Regions from separate parts of the Homo sapiens genome. Here region 2 is linked to region 1. Evidence: fine-mapped expression QTL. Tissue or cell type: coronary artery. Region 1 holds a variant in brackets; the other region holds the start of a gene. All regions are shown on one strand. Distances are from middle to middle.

What was found. PIP is the estimated chance that this variant, and not a neighbour inherited with it, causes the effect.
Region 2: it holds the start of ADGRB3-DT, and the variant in region 1 is fine-mapped to the expression of ADGRB3-DT in coronary artery (GTEx, PIP 0.96).

What each region holds. Positions count from the first base shown.
Region 1 is chr6:67,820,989-67,831,706 of GRCh38, reverse strand. No RefSeq gene overlaps it. Among named protein-coding and RNA genes, the nearest start is that of LINC02549, 500 kb to the left of the region's middle. RefSeq lists enhancers at 5,437-5,731, 8,804-10,003. The variant T/C (reference allele first, on the strand shown) is at 4,424.
Region 2 is chr6:68,629,973-68,638,552 of GRCh38, reverse strand. It overlaps ADGRB3-DT (ADGRB3 divergent transcript), which reads left to right and starts at 4,229. Exons shown (of 2, transcript NR_125872.1): 1 at 4,229-4,368; 2 at 5,497-5,890. ADGRB3 (adhesion G protein-coupled receptor B3) reads right to left here and starts at 3,271. Exons shown (of 32, transcript NM_001704.3): 1 at 2,553-3,271; 2 at 991-1,162. LOC127898563 reads right to left here and starts at 2,663. Exons shown (of 1, transcript NM_001414704.1): 1 at 2,586-2,663. The coding sequence starts at 2,663. The coding sequence ends at 2,586. RefSeq lists a silencer at 3,323-3,532.

The sequences.
Region 1 (10,718 bases):
TTCAGTTATACCACTAATATTTGTTGAATGACAATTAAAACCATGCATTGTTCTTTCACCTAAGTACTCTTATAGCCCAATGGGGGAGGTAGGCATTAAATAATTAATTACACAAACATGTCAGTTGCACCAGAAGATTGTTCGATGCAATTTATTAAATTGTTACCAGGGCATGGAAGAAGGGAGATGGTGAGGAATAGATACTGGATTTATCTTATAGATGATGAGACTATTACAAAATTAGATACTAGTCATGGTTGCACAATTCTGCATATGCTAAAAATCCTTGAATTGTACACTTTAGTGAAGTCAATTTTATGTCAATTATACCTCAAAATAGTAAGTATTTTTTAAAATATGCCTCTTTGTGCCTCAAAGTCCTCCCTCCAGTGACATTTCTAAAGCTTAGAAGAATATTTAACGTCATTTCTATGGCCTCTTTGGACCCCAATTTTAAGGAAATATTTCTCCATCCTCAGCTGCTACCATTCTGTGCTTTATTAACTGTGTTCAATTACAGACCACCTTGCTGTTCTAAATTGCCACACTTATTCTTGCCTAGTGCCTTCACCCTTGCTATTCCTCTTCCTGGGAAGTTAGTAACCTGAATAATTTGATAGTTCACTCTCTTTTTTACATTGAAATCTCTGTTTGAATACAAAATATTTAGAGATGCTGTTTTTGAATGCAGTATGTGAAATAGCTCATTTCCTCCACCTCCTTCAACCATCCACTTATTTATATTTATTTTTATAAGCTTTAATACTTCTTATTGTACATATAATGACTTATTATTTATGTTTTTAGTATTCTATTTAATGAGACAAAACTTTTGTTTTATTTACTTACATAATTTAGGAATTTTTCCTGAGTTAAATAGAAAAATGTAGGAGTGAATTAAATATGCTGAGTTTGTTGTACATGCCAATTAACACTTGTCTTAGTTTTGTCATCTGCAAGATGTGAATAATAATATATTAGAGTAAGAGAATAATAATATTCTATTTTGGGAATATTTAATGGTTGAATGAAATAATGTGTGCAAAATATCTGGCATGTACTCTGCTTAGCTATCTTAGAAGACAGACATCCAAAGCTAACTTTTACTTCATAGAAATTATAGAGCTTCTGCATTTTATCACAGCTTCATGGACACAATCACATAGAAGCACTAATAATTTTACCCTATTTTAAAAACATCTGTACTTAAATTCCAAGAAATGAAAGAAAAAAAAAAGAGAGAAGGAAAGTAAGAAGCAAAACATTCAAGGTTTAAATGTAAGATACTTTTAGATCTTAAAAGTGGATATTGTTAGTGATTTCTTGAATTGCTTCACTTAATGTCACAAAAGTCTCTGGAGTAATTGGATTACTTGTCCCACAGCACTTGCTAAAGGAAAGAATTATTCAGGCCTGCTGATTTATCCACAGAAATAATCTGCAGAATGAAGACTTGAGTGCTGAACCAATTTTATGCTGTCAACATCTAAAAGAGTGTTGCCCAAAGGAGAGCCTAAAAGCTGAGGATCTGAACATTCTGCAGGTTTTCTTGCTTTTATTAATATAATAGGAATGATACTGTGCTACATCTTCTTCCCAATAACATATATATATATATATATGTTTTATATATATATGATATATATGTGTGTGTTATATATGTGTGTTATAATGTTTATGTGTTATATATATGTGTGTGTGTATATGTATACATATACACACACACATACACAACCTTGAATAAAAGTACCAAGTTGTTGAACATAGAACATGTACTTAAGTATCTGAACTGTCCAATCATTTATTCAGACAAGAATCATGTAATGCATGCCAATGTTTTCATGGGTATGCTTGCCCTGGGGACTATAGTAAAAAATAAAACAAAGACACCGTATGTCTTCATGGAGATTACAGTGTCATGGTGGATACAGGCATTAAACAAACTAGCAAAAATATACAAAATAAATATTTTCATTTTAAAAGAGTTATGGGTTAGGAGGAAAAAACAGCAACATCTAGATTCCAAGTAGAGAAAAATGGAGGGATAATTTAATTTGGACTGGAATTAAGACAGAATTCCTTAAGCGAATGACTTGGGTAAAAGACTGCTAATTTAGTCAGAAGCAGTCAGGAAGCCTGAGGGAGTTATAGGTTAAAACCATAACCAAAAAGTGATATGTACACATTCCTGCGAGAAGAGATACCTGAGACTATTTCAAAAAAGAAATATAGTGTCTGGGAAACAGAAATGAAGGAGGCACATTTTTTAAGGTGGGGCTAAAAGAGTAGGCAAGGAACAGAACTTGCAAGAACTTTTAGTTTATTTTTATTTTTTAAAATGCATTGTTAAAGGGCTTTAAAAAGAAATAATGCCAGTTTTAAAAATTAGTTTTATGGAGGCAGGGGACTATCTCAATCAGTTTTTTTTTTTGTTGTTTTAAAGATTACAAGTGTTTTTTTTTTAGGAGGCTATTGCTTCATTTTAAGTAAGAGGTGAGTTGGTTTGGACTGGGATATTAGGGCAGTAGTAATGGATAGACATGAATAGATTGGATTTTTTTTGGAGGTTTAATTGGCAAAATGTGAAGGAAGAGGAAAAGTGAGTCAAAAAACGACCAGTGCAATTATTTATTAAGAAATGTCTATGATGAAGGCCCTTGTGATACCTGTGACACAACCCCAAGTCATAAACACAGTCCCAACCTTTCATCTAGATCAAGAATGAATAACATTTTTTGTAGTTTTCTCACAGACATAACTAATAATAATAACACTATCTAACTTTATTGATTATATACATGCCCTACTCGGGACTACATATGCTTCTTACATATTATTTCATTATATCTTTAGAAGAATAATATGGAATAAAAATCATTATTTTCTTGATGTTATAATGGAGACTAAGGCTTTAGAAAGGTCATTTGACAGAACTTTCACTCTAATCCATATTTGTCTCATTTATAAGCCATTGTGGCCCTAGTTGTCAAACCTAAATTAACATGGGCATTCTCTAAAGTCCTGGTTAAAATACACATTCTGAGGTCTGAAAGCAAGTTTTTTGATTCTGTAGATATATGGTTTGGCCTAGGATTCTATAGTTTTAATATCCACATAAAAAAGCTGGTGAGAATCACACTTTCATAAAGGCTGACACAACTCTAACAGATTTTCTTCGAGCATGTGGGTGTTGAGGTAAAAAGAACTGCAATTCTACCCTCCTGTAACACTCCAAATATGATTTGGAACGTTTTCTACTTTCTACCTTGTTGGAGTATTACAGGAAACTACTCAGCCTTTAAAGCTTGCATTCTTAATACTGTAATCTGAGGAAGTATATCAGTGGCCAAGCACAAGGGAAGCCAATATGGTGGTAAAAGTTTCAGTATTCAGTTTTACTTTCATTGATTTTCCTAGAAAATATCTTGTCTCCTGAGATAAACCTAGTTTAAAAGCAATGGAAAGAAGACAAGTTGGATTCCAGCACTGCGTTAGAAAGAATATCTATCAAATAATCAATAGCTTCATGGAGTAAATATGGAATATAAATTCCATCTTGCAATACTATTGCCAGCACATTCTTTGCTTTAATACTCTCCCTAATTCTCACATCGTAGGCTCTCTTTACTGTAAGTTGTGATAGAATCTATTCTGATTGTGGTAGATACTCATGTCAACTACTTCTCAGTTAGATGAAGCTTTCCATTTATTTGATATACAGGTAATAAAAATTGTTGCTAGTAATAATAAATGATGCATAAAGTGTTCTTTCTCTGAAAACTATAATCAATAACATTCCAAAATATTGCACTCTAATATGACAAGCCTGTTCTTAGCTTGTGCCACTCCATCATATTTAAATCTATAAACTCCACTTATTATTTCAACTACTAACATTTATTCCAGAAATGGTAGTAGAGGACAAAAAAATGACAGTTTAGCGTTCACAAGGATATTAATGCTTACAACAGCATTTTGAATGTATAAATTTGTTCAAACTTATTCATGTATTTTTTTCTACTGTATATTATTTGACAATTATCAAATTAAAATCCTGATAGAATAACTCTACTAAAATTACAGAAATAATAATTCATATACTATTAGTACTACTAATACATGTATTATCACAGCCTTTAATTATATTAATGAGAATAAAATGAAAATACTAAACAAAAATTTATAAAAATATGTAATTAAATACATATTTTTAAACACTGTTCACTTCAACATATAGCTGAAAAATGAAAAGATGTAATTGGGCCACTGAGCTGCTGTTAAGCAGATACTATTCTATTTGAAAGGCTAAAATGACTTTAATACAGAGCTGTTTTTGAGGAGTACAGGACAACTTTTATAAAGACAGTCACTACAGGGGTTAAGAACACAGACTATGGAGTAAAATCCAGATTCAAATTCTTAA[T/C]ATTCTGTTCACCAGTGGGGAGTATTTGGAACATTTATTTAACCTTTCTGAACTTTGGTTTTCTTGTTCTACAACTGGAAAAAATTTCCCATTGGTTTTAAGTTCCAAAAGTTATGAGAAATAATAAAAATGTTTTTTTAGCAGAATATTTTACATACTGCATTTATTACCAATTAGATAGGGAGTATGACTTTCAGCTTCTCAAGTGAGAGTAAGTTAGTTTAAAATCTTGTTCTGTACATACCCCATTTGAGACAATTGAGGTCATAGAAAGCTCCCTGAACCTCATTTTGTCCTCTATAAAATGGGGCCAATGATAGTATCAATGTGTTTTGAGAAGTTGCTGCATGGAACAGGAATGGTGTTACTGCTATTGCTAACAAAGCATTTTTTGAGAAGACAAATTTATGATTACTGCACAGTTTTCCACATGCATATTTTTTGTTTAATATGTTGCCTAGGCAAAGTTTTAATTCCAGTTAAGTCTCCATTGAGAAATAAGTATAACTTGGACATACTCATTACTGCACAAGTGTAGGTTTGTGTCTGGAATTGGTGGGTTCTTGGTCTCACTGACTTCAAGAATGAAGCCGTGGATCCTCGCGGTGAGTGTTACAGCTCTTAAGGCAGCACGTCTGGAGTTGTTCGTTCTGATACTCAGATGTGTTTGGACTTTCCTCCTTCTGGTGGGTTCGTGATCTCACTGGCCTCAGGAGAGAAGCTGCAGACCTTCGCGGTGAGTGTTACAGCTCATAAAAGCAGTGCAGACCCAAAGAGTGAGCAGCAGCAAGATTTATTGCAAAGAGTGAAAGAGCAAAGCTTCCACAGTGTGGAAAGGCGACCCCAGTGGGTTGCCACTGCTGGCTGGGGCAGCCTGCTTTTATTCCCTTATCTGGCCCCACCAACATCCTGCTGAGCTGATTGGTCTGTTTTACAGAGAGCTGACTGGCCCATTTTGACAGGGGGCTGATTGGTGTTTTTACAATCCCTGAGCTAGACACAAAAGTTCTCCAAGTCCCCACTAGATTAGCTAGACACAGAGCACTGATTGGTGCATTCACAAACCTTGAGCTAGACACAGGGCACTGATTGGTGTGTTCACAAACCTTGAGCTAGACACAGAGTGCTGATTGGTGCATTTACAATCCTTAGCTAGACATAAAGGTTCTTGAAGTCCCCACCAGATTAGCTAGATACAGAATGCTGATTGGTACATTTACAAACCTTGAGCTAGACACAGAGTGCTGATTGATGCATTTACAATCCCTTAGCTAGACATAAATGTTCTCCAAGTCCCCACCAGATTAGCTAGATACAGAGTGCTGACTGGTGCATTCACAAACTCTGAGCTAGACACAGAGCACTGATTGGTGTATTTACAATCCTCTAGCTAGACATAAAAGTTCTCCAAGTCCCCACCAGACTCAGGAGCCCAGCTGGCTTCACCTAGTGGATCCTGCACCAGGGCCACAGGTGAAGCTACCCGCCAGTCCCTTGCTGTGCACCCGCACTCGGCCCTTCGGCAGTCGATGGGACCAGGTGCTGCAGAGCAGGGGGCGGCGCTTGTCGGTGAAGCTCGGGCCACCGTGCAGGAGCCCACCTTGTGGGGGAGCCACGGTGGGCTGCAGGTCCCAAGCCCTGCCCCGTGGGGAGGCAGCTGAGGCCCACCAAGAATTCCAGTGCAGCACCTGCGGGCTGGCACTGCTGGGAGACTTGGCGCACCCTCCACAGCTGTTGGCCCGGGTGCTAAGCCCCTCACTGCCCGGGGCTAGCAGCACTGGCCAGCAGCTCTGAGTACGGCCCGCCGAGCCCACATCCACCCGGAACTCGCACTGGCACGCGAGCACCGCACACAGCCCCAGTTCCTGCCCGCGCCTCTCCCTCCACACCTCCCCACAAGCTGAGGGAGCCAGCTCCGGCCTCGGCCAGCACAGAGAGGGGCTCCCACAGTGCAGCCGCAGGCTGAAAGGCCCCTCAAGCACTGCCAGATTGGGTGCCGAGGCCGAGGAGGCGCCGAGAGCGAGAGAGGGCTGCGAGGGCTGCAGGCACGCTGTCACCTCTCAGGTTTACTTGGGGAATCTGAAATAAAAAGGTTGGAAAGTTAACTTTACTAAGAACAAAATGATATAATGCATTCCAAGAGTAAATTTTAATGCCTTTTAGAATGTCCTTGATGTTATTTCTTTCTTTACATGTGACTAAATTTATTAATAATTATTAAGTAAATCCTTAGGTATTATGTGAAAGCTTAATGCACTAAATTTATTATATTTCTACATATTCATAAACATTTTGGAAGATGGCTACCCAGCATGTAATTTTCAAGGCAGGCCTATAATACATATCAGTCAAAATGGGCAAGGGGATTGCAAACCATAATGTCTACAATTGAAAGGAGTACATTTCAAGATAGCTTTCGTTTTATGCAACTAGGACCTGAAATAAATATTGCCAGTGGGGATGTAAAGAACACTGTAGATTACCATCACTTTTCCTATCTAAAACACACATAATATTGGTAAAAATTCTGGCCTAGAAGATAAAATCATTATAAAACATTAGGAATATTGTTATCAGATGTTATAAACAAAATAAGGAGTCATACACACTCAGAAGTAATACTATAGATTATTTATATCACAAGTTTGTATAACATATTTAGAAATTATCAATAGTCTTTGAGAGACTCAATGTAAAACCTCCTGCAATATGAAGTATGCATTTATGAATGGTGAATGACATTTTATTTAATGCAACCCACAAAACTAAATGCAACTATATCTTGAGCTTTTATACAACTTGGCACAACTTCAAGCCAGGGAGAGCACTAGTCGTTGATGATGCTCATTCTTCTACAGTTTAGAAAAGATGCAAAAAATAAACTCAAACGATTTTAAAGAGGGCTAGACTTGTAAAAACACTTTTATTACGAGAGAAAAGGTCACTGATTTTCTAAACAGAGACTTTGCACTACATAAAAGAGAATTCATTTTATTAAATGAATGATGAGCCAAGAAGGTCACAGTAGCTTGAAAAGAACAATAGCAGGTCATGAGCTTATAAATCTTTGAAGAACTTTCTTTCATTTAAGAGGCTCAGGATTATTATTCGATTTGGTAAAGTGCAAGAAACAATAGGAGGTCATTCACACTGTTGCAAGGTATCAATTAACACTTTACAAATATTGAGTGTAAATTTTACCTAGATTTGACAGTGTGTAAAAAAAAAGGACAAAGTATATAATTTACATGGTTTTGCAAAACACAGCACAGAAGCAGGGGATTGATGCATGTGTAATTCTTCAATAATGTAGGTTATTTCAATTAATGTAAAAACAATCAATTTAACTTTCACACTGCTTATTTGATCATTCTTTATATTTTTATTCATTTTCTAATTAGCTTCCCCATTACTTAAACTAATCAAGTTTCAAAAGAACAAAGGAAGATAATTATTAATATTTCCAGTGATATTCATTTGTTTTTCTCTCAATGTCAGATTGTACATCCAGAGTAGGAAATTAACATTTCAAAGTATCTCTGTGCTCTGTGATATTTCTTATCAAATTCCAGGGAGAGTGGGGGTTTTATACACACACTCATATATATATGCAAACAAGTATTTTATATACATATAAAGTATGCACACACATACATATCACAAATAGCATATCCCATTTAGTTATTTGTCAATAAATTTTACTTTATCAAATACACAATAAAATTTTTGTAAAATATGGGATGGAGATTTTTGCACTTTTATATCTGTAATGTGCAGCCTGACATTTTGAACACACTATATACCAAAAAAATCTGTAAATTAGTCAGTAGGAATGAATCCGTAAAATACTTCTTAGCTTTGAGCAGAGTAATTGCTTTTGTTTCTATCAATTGTATAACAAATTAATTTCCATTTTAACTGTGACATGTAATGAGCATGGAAGACAACATTTTTGACCTTAAAATAAATAAACAACAAAAAAACTTGAACCCTGAAAATCATTGACTTTTTTGGATCTATTAGAGAAGCGAGCTTGCAGGGCAAACTGGCACCCAGAATCTGAAAAGATACGGAAATTCTTACACAGTTCCGGTAGAGATCTGTTTATTTGGAGCAAAGCAGCAGAAGCATAATGCGGAAGAAACACGTAAGTCATAATTGGATGAATTGCTGGAAGTTTCAAGTAGCCTAGCATGAGCGCAAAACTACCGAAGGCAACAGTCTTGGTATAGCCCAATACTTTTGCAGACTTAACATCCAAAACCTCTACCAGATTCACCTTATAAAGATCCAAAAATGATCCCTCTTTGTCTCTGGCAGTAGAAGGGGAAGGATAATCATTCCAAAAAACTTGCAGAACATTTTCCAAAAGAAAGGCCATTTTTCATGGAGAGAGACCTCACCAGAGCCTCTTCTCAGCTTCATCCCCTCCTAGCCTTCTGTTTTATCTAAGAGAGGAGGGGAAAGCTGTACCATCAGAGAACACCAGATTTTGAAGTTCCAAAGACATAGGCTCACTAAAGATTGAGAAGTAATAATATGGTGGAAAAATATATTTCTTCCCTCCCAATTTACCACTAATAAAACAGGGCTCCACTAAAGTAACAGTGCATTACTGCTGGAAGATTGGAAACATGCAGATTTTGTGAGAAGTATTTATGGGATTCTAAAGTCAAGTGGGGAGGCAAAATAAGTACGTAAGAGGAATTTGAATTCACTGATGCTTACAAGTATAGTAAACAATAAACACAGACAAACCCCTACTCACATTGTGTCCAGAATTGGTGGGTTCTTGGTCTTGCTGACTTCAAGAATGAAGCCGCACACCCTCCCCGTGAGTGTTACAGTTCTTAAATATAGTGTGTCCAGAGTTTGTTCCTTCTGATGTTCAGATGTGTCCTGAGTTTCTTCCTTCTGGTGGGTTCGTGGTCTTGCTGACTTCAGGAGTGAAGCCGCAGACCTTCGCAGTGAGTGTTACAGCTCTTAAGGGTGGCACGTCCGGAGTTGTTCCTTCTTGCTGGTGAGTTCGTGGTCTCGCTGGCTTCAGGAATGAAGCTGCAGACCTTCGTGGTGAGTGTTACAGCTCATAAAGGTACTGCATACACAGAGTAAGCAGCAACAAGATTTATTGCAAACAGGGAAAGAACAAAGCTTCCACAGGATGCAAGGGGACCTGAGCAGGATGCCACTGCTGGCTTGGGTGGCCTGCTTTTATTTGCTTATCTGGCCCCACCCACATCCTGCTGATTGGTCCATTTTACAGAGTGCTGATTGGTCCATTTTACAGAGTGCTGATTGGTCCATTTTACAGAATGCTTATTGGTGCATTTACAATCCCTTAGCTAGACACAGAGTGCTGATTGGTGCATTTACAATCCTTTAGCTAGACACAAAAGTTCTCCAAGCCCCACCTGATTAGCTAGACGCAGAGTGCTGATTGGTGCGTTTACAAACCTTTAGCTAGACACAGAGTGCTGATTGGTGCATCTACAATCCTTTAGCTAGACAGAAAAGTTCTCCAAGTCCCCACCCGACCCAGAAGCCCAGCCAGCTTCACGTCTCAACATCATCATAAATCTTCACACAAAAGGTTTACTTACTTCAGGCCCTATTACCCAACACATGCTTGGCTTGCAACAAAAAGTTAGAAGGCATTCTAAAAGGCAAGAGAAAACACAGTCTAAAGAAGAAAAACAAGTATCAGAATTATACTCAGATATGACAAAGACATTGAAAATATTAGGTGGGGAGTTTAAAATAATGATTTATATGTGAAGGGTTCTAAAGGAAAAAGTAGGCAACATGCAAGAACAGATGGGTAATGCAAGCAGAGAGAGAGAAACTAAGAATCATAAGGCAGTGCCATAAATCAAAAACACCATAACAGGAATGAAGAGTCCTTATGGTAGATTCATCAGTGGACTGGACATGGTTTAGGAAAGGATGAATCAGCTTGAATATAGGTCAATAAGAATGTCCCAAACTGAATATTGCAAAGAGGCTAAAGAAAGGAAAAAGACAAAAACGCAGAATAGTCAAGAATAGTGAGGCAATCACAAAAAGTGTAACATGTGCATAATAGGAATAAAGGAGAAAGAACAGAATACATACTTGAAGTAATAATGGCTGAGAACAATGCAAAAGTAATCCCTAACTAATTACAGGTGCAAAAATACTGATCCCAGAAAATCAAAGAACACCAGAGAGTATAAGGACCAGAAAAAAAAAACAAACTACATTATGGCATATCATATTCAAATGTTAGAGTAGGTACCTAGCCAGACATGAGCAGAGC
Region 2 (8,580 bases), 810 kb before region 1:
CCCTTTTTAAAAGAAGGGCAGGTAATTTTTATTTTATAACACAGGAAAATTATCTGTTGCTGTGTGAACAGCGCCCTCATGTGGCCATTCACAATGGTCAAATTCGCAACATTCAATTTAAAAATAACATTTAATAGATTATTAATAGGAATGCCCTAACTTATCTACTAGGATATCCTCCACGTCCATTATCATTCTATCGAATGAAAAGGGAAAACATGGAGTTTTAAAACGTCATAATGTAAATGTTAATTGTCGAAATAGTATTAATCAGTCTATAGTCTATACAACCTTTTCTCTCTCTGTCCTCTGCGGTAAACACTATCATACAAAATCTAATCTGATAATCTGGGAACAGCTGTCATCACATTATTTCTCTCCTCTTAAACGTGAAAAGTAATGATGATAAATTATGGCCACAATTTTAAAAGCACAAATAATAATTTATTACAGATGGAACATCATCTCCCAAATGCCCCACTTGCCTTTGCAGGGGCCACCATGTGAACTGCTCAGAAATTCCTTTGCAAAAACATGGGCATTCATGTGGATTAGTTAATTTTAAAACCATCATTTGAGAAAGGGCATAGATGGATAAATACATAGGGAAGACTTGTTGTTCAACATCACCATTGAGAACCAGGATTTAGGGCAGTCATTTCAATGTGACATGCCCTTTTGGGATACATAAAGTGGATCACTGTATTAGTATCTGTATCCAAAGGTGATATCAGTTAAAAAAAAAAAAAATCCAGAACCATAGTAATTGAGCTGGTTTCAGTCTTTTAATTTTTGAAAAATTATCTTATCAACTGTAATTTAAGGCTTACACATGGTAATAAAATACATTAACATTTTTGTTCCTAGCAGATTTCAATTATTAAATTGCTCCCTTTCCAACAACAACTCCAAAGCTCCTCTTTTCTTTTCTTTTCTTTTTTAATTTTAACCCTGGCTTTGGATAATAAAGTAGTCCTTGGTTATATTTACCTCTGTAAGTTGTTATCCAAAAATAACTTGAATATTTTTCAGCTTTAACCTTTAAGAAGTTATTTCTTAGAATAAATGACACTGCTTTTGTTTGTTTGTTTAGCCTTTGAGCTGATAAAAGTGATGCCAAGTTAATTTTAAAAGTCTTTAGGCTGCAGTCTCTTCCACTGTTCTGTAAACAGAGACAGACATACAGACATATAGATAGTTAAGAGTTTTCATGCCTTTGCCTGGGTCTTCTCTGAATCAAAGGATAAAACCCTCTTCCTTCCCATTGCATAACACACACCAACGCATGCACACCAAATCCAGTGACCGAAGTCCCTGAAGATAGATCTGCATTTTCCAGATTATAATTCAAATTCTATGTCTTGATATAGGCAAACACAGCCCCAACTCTAAATCTCTATATAGCAGCAGTTTAAAATAACATCAGAACTGCTGGGACCATCAAAACAGTGTTCTCTGTTTCAAGCAAATAGCTCAATGAATAATGCATTTTCTTCATGAGAAAATAAAGCCAATGAGCATTTAAAGGTTAAAAAAAAACAGAGAAAGTTGTAAGAAATTCTGGAAATAATTTCCTTTTTTTTTTTTTTTTTTTGGTGTTGCACTTTGCAGGCAATGCAGGTCTGCGCAGTGTTCTTCAGGATAGAGTGTAGGCGTTGAGAGCCAATGTGACAATAAGTGTCTAAATTAGGAATTCCATCCATGAAAGGGGACTTCATTTTATAATCAGGAACTCAAAAAGAGGTCGTATGTCTTTTCCTAATGAAATTGGTACTTTTGCTTTCATTTATTTGACAGTGCATGTCTGCAATGCCGTGCTCATCAATGATCAGAGAGTGAGGAAATAGCTCTGAATTCACTTTAATGCCTGCTCAAGAGAGCGCACTCAATATAATGCTCTTTATTTTTAATCAGTCTGGAGTACACAGTCTTATTTTGTTCTAAATAATAAAAAATAAATCATTACCCTCACCCCCCTTTGGACTGCAGGGCCCGTTCAAAAAGCCGTGTTTCCCTCTTAAAGAAGGGGTGGGGGCGGGGGCAAAGGCTGGCCACGGAGGTGTCAAGGATGTTTTATTTATTTATTTATTTATTTATTTATTTATTTATCTCTTGCTGAGAAGCAAACCAGCATTGAGTTTAGCTATTCTCAAAACTGATTTTCTGGGTGACACTTTAGTTTAGTCGAACATAGACGGCGCCATCACTCCACAGATTTTTCCCCCCAATAGAAGACCCACTGCCTTCTCTTAACTTCCTTTTAACCTAAAATTTTCCCCTCATAAAATTACCCCAATCACACAAAACTGCCAGATTTTCTAGGTCTCTCCGCTTATTCCTTCTGACCCAGCACATCTCTTGAAAACCAGACTTCTCTAACTTTTCAACTGCGGCGTTTAAGTAAATGCAGACAGTCGGATCTGCTCACAGCCTCCCCATCCGCCAGCAACAGCCTTTCCTTTCATTTTCCTCCCTTCTCAAACATTAAGCCCAAAGCTCCACGGTGGCGACCCCCGGCAGAGAAAAGGTGACCCCTGGACCCCCTTCCTTACCTTCCACTCCGAAAGCTCAGGGAGGCTCTTGCTCTAAGACACCAGCACAGGCACGCGTCCCAGCAACAGTGACGGAGAGACTCCCCTTCGGTCCCAATCACCGTTGCCCATTTTCCCCGGCTCAGCTTCCAAAATCAGGATTTATTTTTAAAAATGCATACATACGAAAAGCAAAAGGTGGGGGGTGGGAACCAAAGGGGGGTCGATGAGAGAGAGGAAAAAAAAGCCAGCAGGAGCCCAGAACCTTGCGCCGTATCCAACTGAATCCAACCTCCAAACCGAGGGGGGCTAAAGGGAGGGAGAAGCCCCCCCAAGGGAGACTCTAAGGAACCCCCCAAAATGTAAGTGGCTTAATAGCAAAGATTTGTTTCATAAAAGCTACCCCCAACAAACCAAGAAGCAAAGAAAGCGCTGAGACGAGAAGTGACCGGCGGCGGCGGCGGCTGCTATGGCAGATTTGTTGGGGCGGTGGGTTTATTACAGGAGTATTCGTGGTCGGATCGGAAGGCTCAAGCTTATGCTTTTTCCTCTTTCCGCTTTCCTCCCTCCTCCTCCTCCCCCCTGCAGGTACTGATGGACGGACGGCGACTAAGGAGAGCGGGGAAAAAAATCCTTGGCTGGTGATGTCGGAAAGCTGTTTGAATGCCCAGCGAGGAGGGAGGCGCGAGAGGGAGCGAGATAGTAAAGCTCTGTCTCGGGTGTGCGCGCCGGCGCGCAGTGCTCGCTCTCCCTTGGGCGCGCGCGCGGGGGGTGCGCGTGTCCCGGGAGCGCGTCCGCGCGGCGGCCTCCCGCGTGCTCGTGTGCGCGCGCGTCCCGGGTGCCGCGCGCCCTTCTTATGCACAGCTGCGGTGCGCCCCGCCGCCCGCCAGAGGCTCGGCTCGCGCGGCGCGGCCGCTGCGACTTCCTGGAGTTCTGCCTGCCGGGGGCGCGGGCGGGTGTGTGAGAGAGAAGGCGAAGGGAGCCGCGGGGTGGGAGAGGAGGGAGTCCCGGCGGGAGGGCGGGGGAGAGGCTGGCGGGAGGGGGGCTCCACGGAGCTCCAGCCAGGGCCGCGGTTCGCCTGCACGTCACGGCTACTCAAACCCAAGCACGTCCCGAAAGCGGTATTTTCTGCGTCTGGGAGGTTTTTGCATCCTCAGTTCCCACCGCTGGGGCTGGCGGCGACCAACTGTAAGAGAAACTCACTGGGAGGCGAGGCAGGGGGGTGCGGAGGATGGGAAGGCGACTCTGAAGGGTGGGAAGTGAATGCTGGACTTGATCGTCTTTCTCTTTCTTTCAGCGCAGACCTGTCGCAGCCAGAGAGCTGTCATTTCAGTACCGGGATTCAGAATTGATCCAGTCCGCAGCGGAGGGGGCACATCCCAGCTACCGAGCTGCTGAGTGTCTCTGGCTGGAACAATAGTATTTTTTTCTCTGCGAGGCTGCAATTAACATCTTATTTGTTCTGGCTCCATACAGGCTTTGTCAGGATCGCGGTGCGGCGACCGACGTTGGGCTCTTGCATTGCTTTGTGCTTGGCAATGGAATCATGGTTTCGGGGTCTAAACTTTTGTTTCGTTTTGTAGTCTTAATGTATCTGATTCTTTTTCAAGTTTCCCTAGTAACAGGTTTGGGGACGGGGTGGGAAGAAGCGAGAAAAGGGGTGAAGAGAAAAAACCAGATTATATAGAAAGGAAAAAGGGAAAAGGGATGTTTCCCCACCTTTTAATCTAACTATCTATCTGTCTGTCTATCTATCATCATAGATAGTCATTTTGCCTCCTGGACAGTTGGCTGACGAAGTGTCTGATAAACCAGCTTCAGATACATGCTACAAAAGGTCATTCGCCTCCTGATTATGTTTCTACTTGTAAACGCAGTTGGTGGTTTGCAAAACAAGTGCTAAAATAGTGCAGTGATGTGGTGGGAGGAAACCATAATGGGTAATTCATATAAAGTGCTGGAATCTTCGTAAGGGTGAGTTTCTCGAGCGGCAGGTGAAGTTGAATAAAGCAATTTTCCATCATTTGTTCCCCTCACTCTTGCATTTTTTTCCTCCGCTTGTTTCTCTCCCCTGGGGCGATTATGGATAGCCAAGAACACCATTTTAAAAGAGATTGATAGTGAAAACAGGAAGTTTATGGTCTGTTATCCACTGGAGTTGTTTGAAATATTAAAATTGGTCCTTTACTTCTTAATGCATATTAATAGAGTGACCCTCTTCAAGGCTTTCCCGTCTTAAACGAATGCCTGGGATAAACACTGTAAGGGGAAACAGTTAATAATTCCCCAGCAGGCTTTAACTATTTTCCCAGTAACAAATCACCGGCAAGAGAGCAGCCTGGGTGGCATTTTGGTTTTGTGTCATTTTGGTTCTTTACAATATTTTTTATTCATTTAAGGAAATGTTAAAAGGAAATAATTAGGGTTTATGTCCAGAACAAATTTTGAAACACCGTTTAAGCAACACATTTTCTTTTAAAAACAAAGAACATTGAGCAACACAAAGGAGAAAAACATTTTATTTATTTCAACTTCCCTAGAGATCGTAATTATGATTTTCGCAAGGCAATTTGGTCAGTTCTGTTACTTTATCCAGAGGAAAAAAAAGCATGACAGATGTGGAATAAAAACGGAGGAAAAAATGCTTTGGATGGTTTATACATAAAAAGGAAAGAATGTAATGTGAGGTTCAGTTATACCTCTATTTTGCATCTAGTGATTTCTCATATTATCTTGTAACACTGATTTTGATGTTTCTTAGAAATTCTTAAAGTCATGACACAGTGGCATAAGAATAACAGCTGAAAGGGACAATTTAAAAGCCTAAATCCTAAATGGAAAGGTTCACTTACTCCCAGGATCATTTATATTCAAGTAGAAGTCAGGGCAGGGTCAGAAAAGAAAGCCACCCTTAATAAAGCGCTTCACCCTTCACATTGTTTCTCATAACCTTCATAAATTGCAGGCTACTGAGCTGGCCTGATGATGATCCTTCTGAGATATATTTATAGCAGATGATTTGTGGATGATAACTACGCCAAGCAAGACACTGTCTCCAGTAACCCCAGGCTCGTCTGACTTCCTCAGGGGATTATAATAAAGAATCACAAAAAGAACCCTATATGGACAGTCTGGTCTCTGGACACTAACAACAGCACAATCCAAAGGCAAAGAAAGGAGGAACCACCTTGTTTCATGTCTGCAAGCTGCTCCATATGAAAGCATTGCTGACATGTTGACCCAACAGCAAAAAGAGAGCAGCAGTTTACACACCCTCAGCTCTCTGTCCTTTCCTTTCTATTGATGTTGGTCCACTTTTATGACTGAATACATATTAAAATCACCATTTCAAATTATAATTATCTGCTTTCATTGGTCTCTTTCACAAGTCTATGTCTATATTTATGTTTACATATATAAACACATATACACATATTTTATACATACATATGTATATGTATGCACGCATTATTTGTAAGTACACATACACGTGTGTGTATATATATGTATATGATATGTATATGTGTATTTCAGTTGATACACATATATTTGCTTGGGAAGTTTCACTACATTGCTTTGTATTTCTCTTTTATAAGGTAATGCATTTAATTCCAAAACTACCACATTAATTGTATAAATTGATTATTACATAAGTTTCCTTGATGATTTACAGAAGAACTATTGAGAGGTCAGTGTTAGCACATCAAAATATAGTCTGGTATGGCATTTTAAATTGACCCAGGTATCTAATATTAAAGCCTTTCAAATTTATCTCTCCTGCTATTATTTTATTAAGATTACTTTGGAATGATGAGGTTATAAGTGTGATTTATTTCTGTTTCATCTTTTTGTCTGTATGTGCTAAGTTTAGTCCCTCCACTTTGAGAATAACCCTATAATCCAGGATCATTGCTTAAAATTCAGTATCATTTGCAGAATTCTCATACTCAAATAAGAATGTTTCTAGAATATGTTTACTCAATTTTAGAAAGTATTTTCTCTTTCCTTCTTTCTGTCATAGTTTTTCTGATATTACTGTATTACCACATTCTAAACTCTGTGACTTGTTATTTTCAGTAAGGCTTTAAGAAGCATGGATAGGTTTGTAGGTTATTTCTTGTTAAATATGCCTTAATTTTTTAGTATTTAGTATTAGTATTTAGTTTTTAGTATTTAGTATTTAGTATCTCCCATATATATATATGCACACATATATATATACACATATATATGTACACACATACATATATACACACACATATATATACACACACATACACAAAGCTTTGGAATGTTAATTAAATGATCAAAATATTACAAGATTACATTGTTATGAGAACTTATCCTTAATATTAGCATATTTACTATAAAGTTAAACAACTTCTTCTCCTCTGTCTCCTGTTTATTATCATTATTTTATTATTATTAAAAAAGGAAGTCTCTCAGAAACCAAGCTGTATATCCTCTAGTCTCTATGTAAAAAAACAAATTGGTCATTTTCTACTTGGACATCCCAGAATAGAAAGTACATTGAAGTACTAAAAAATAAAGGGATAGACTTGGGGTTAAGGGAGATGTCATAGAACAGCTATCCTGGGTTAGTTCAAGTGTAGTCCTATTCCATGCTAGGCAAAGTCAAGGTTACAAAAATCCCAGTTGCATCAGGTTTCCATTTTTTATCATTATTTCCCTATACAACGATACAAGTTAAAAAAAAGTCGGTAAATACTTTTGGCCATCAATTTTCAAGATTTCATTGGTGATATTAAGGAAATGCTGTAAGTAGGTAACACATAATGTCATATTTGTGTGCTGTAGAAGTATCTTGGAAAATATGGACTTTAAAACCTCAAAATATGGGTTTGCAATCGAACATACATTCACCCCCAAATTTGACCTTTTTCAGCTAGTTATTTTCTCATATAAAGTTACTATACTTACACCATTATCTTTAATCCCTGAAATTTCAATTATACTAGAAATCAAGATTCTTCATTTTTACTCACGAAACTGACACTAAGTATATACCTCATTAAGGACAAGAAGCTATGAATTCTCTGGACTTCAGTTATCTCACAGAAAAGAGCTTGATTGAATAATGTCTAAGGCTCTTCCTGACATAGTCTAAATAACAGAAGGTGTCTCACAAGAAATGGAAGCAGTGAGAGAAAAATGCAATTAAATCCTAGACTAGAAAGAATCACAATTTTCCCACTCACAGGTTGGAAATGCCTCTCTATTCTATCACAATTTTGAAAACCTCCATAGTTTTACTAGCTTTGCCTTTCTCCCTTGCTATCATCTTCTGAGGTACAGACAGTCCTTTCCATTTTTATTCCTCTCCCACTCTGATAATTTTTTTCTTTGACAGAAGTCCCACTTTATCATTAATGATGACAATAACTAAGGCTGCCAGGAACAGCACATCTGCTGAGCTTTATCAACACCAGGTATTGAAGTCTATGGACTACCTATTATTTCTGAACATTTATTCATGTTCAGTCCTGTTTCTACCAATTCTGATCCACTTATCTCTACCATTTCTCTTCCTGGCAGATTCTCTCATTTTGCCTTCTGGATCTCCATGCTTTTTTATACCAACAAACAAGAGGAAGAATATTCTCTACCCACTTCCTTGACTGAAGCCTGCTCTTTTATGAAGACATGGCATCTCTTCCAACCGTGTCAAACAGATGCAATTTATATGTCTGCTGCTTCCATACCCTGATTAAATGGGTCAGTGGCAGAATCAGTATCCTTAGTCTCCCCTTTGGTTTCAAATATGTACTCCTTATTTCAGTTTCATGCTCACCTTTCTGTAGAGACCAAGGCATCTGCCTTTGCAGCTTTACCTCTTCCTCCAGGTTATAGTTTCCATTCATGGAATCTTTTAGCTGCTGGCTGGCAGTTTTCCTGTCTACCTGACTTCCATTCCTCTTCTCATGACTTCAGCTCCCATGCAGATGTCTTATCCTGACATACTAGCTTCTCCATTCTATTTCTGTGTGTGTGTGTCTGTGTGTTTCCCTACTAGTTCATCCACATTTCC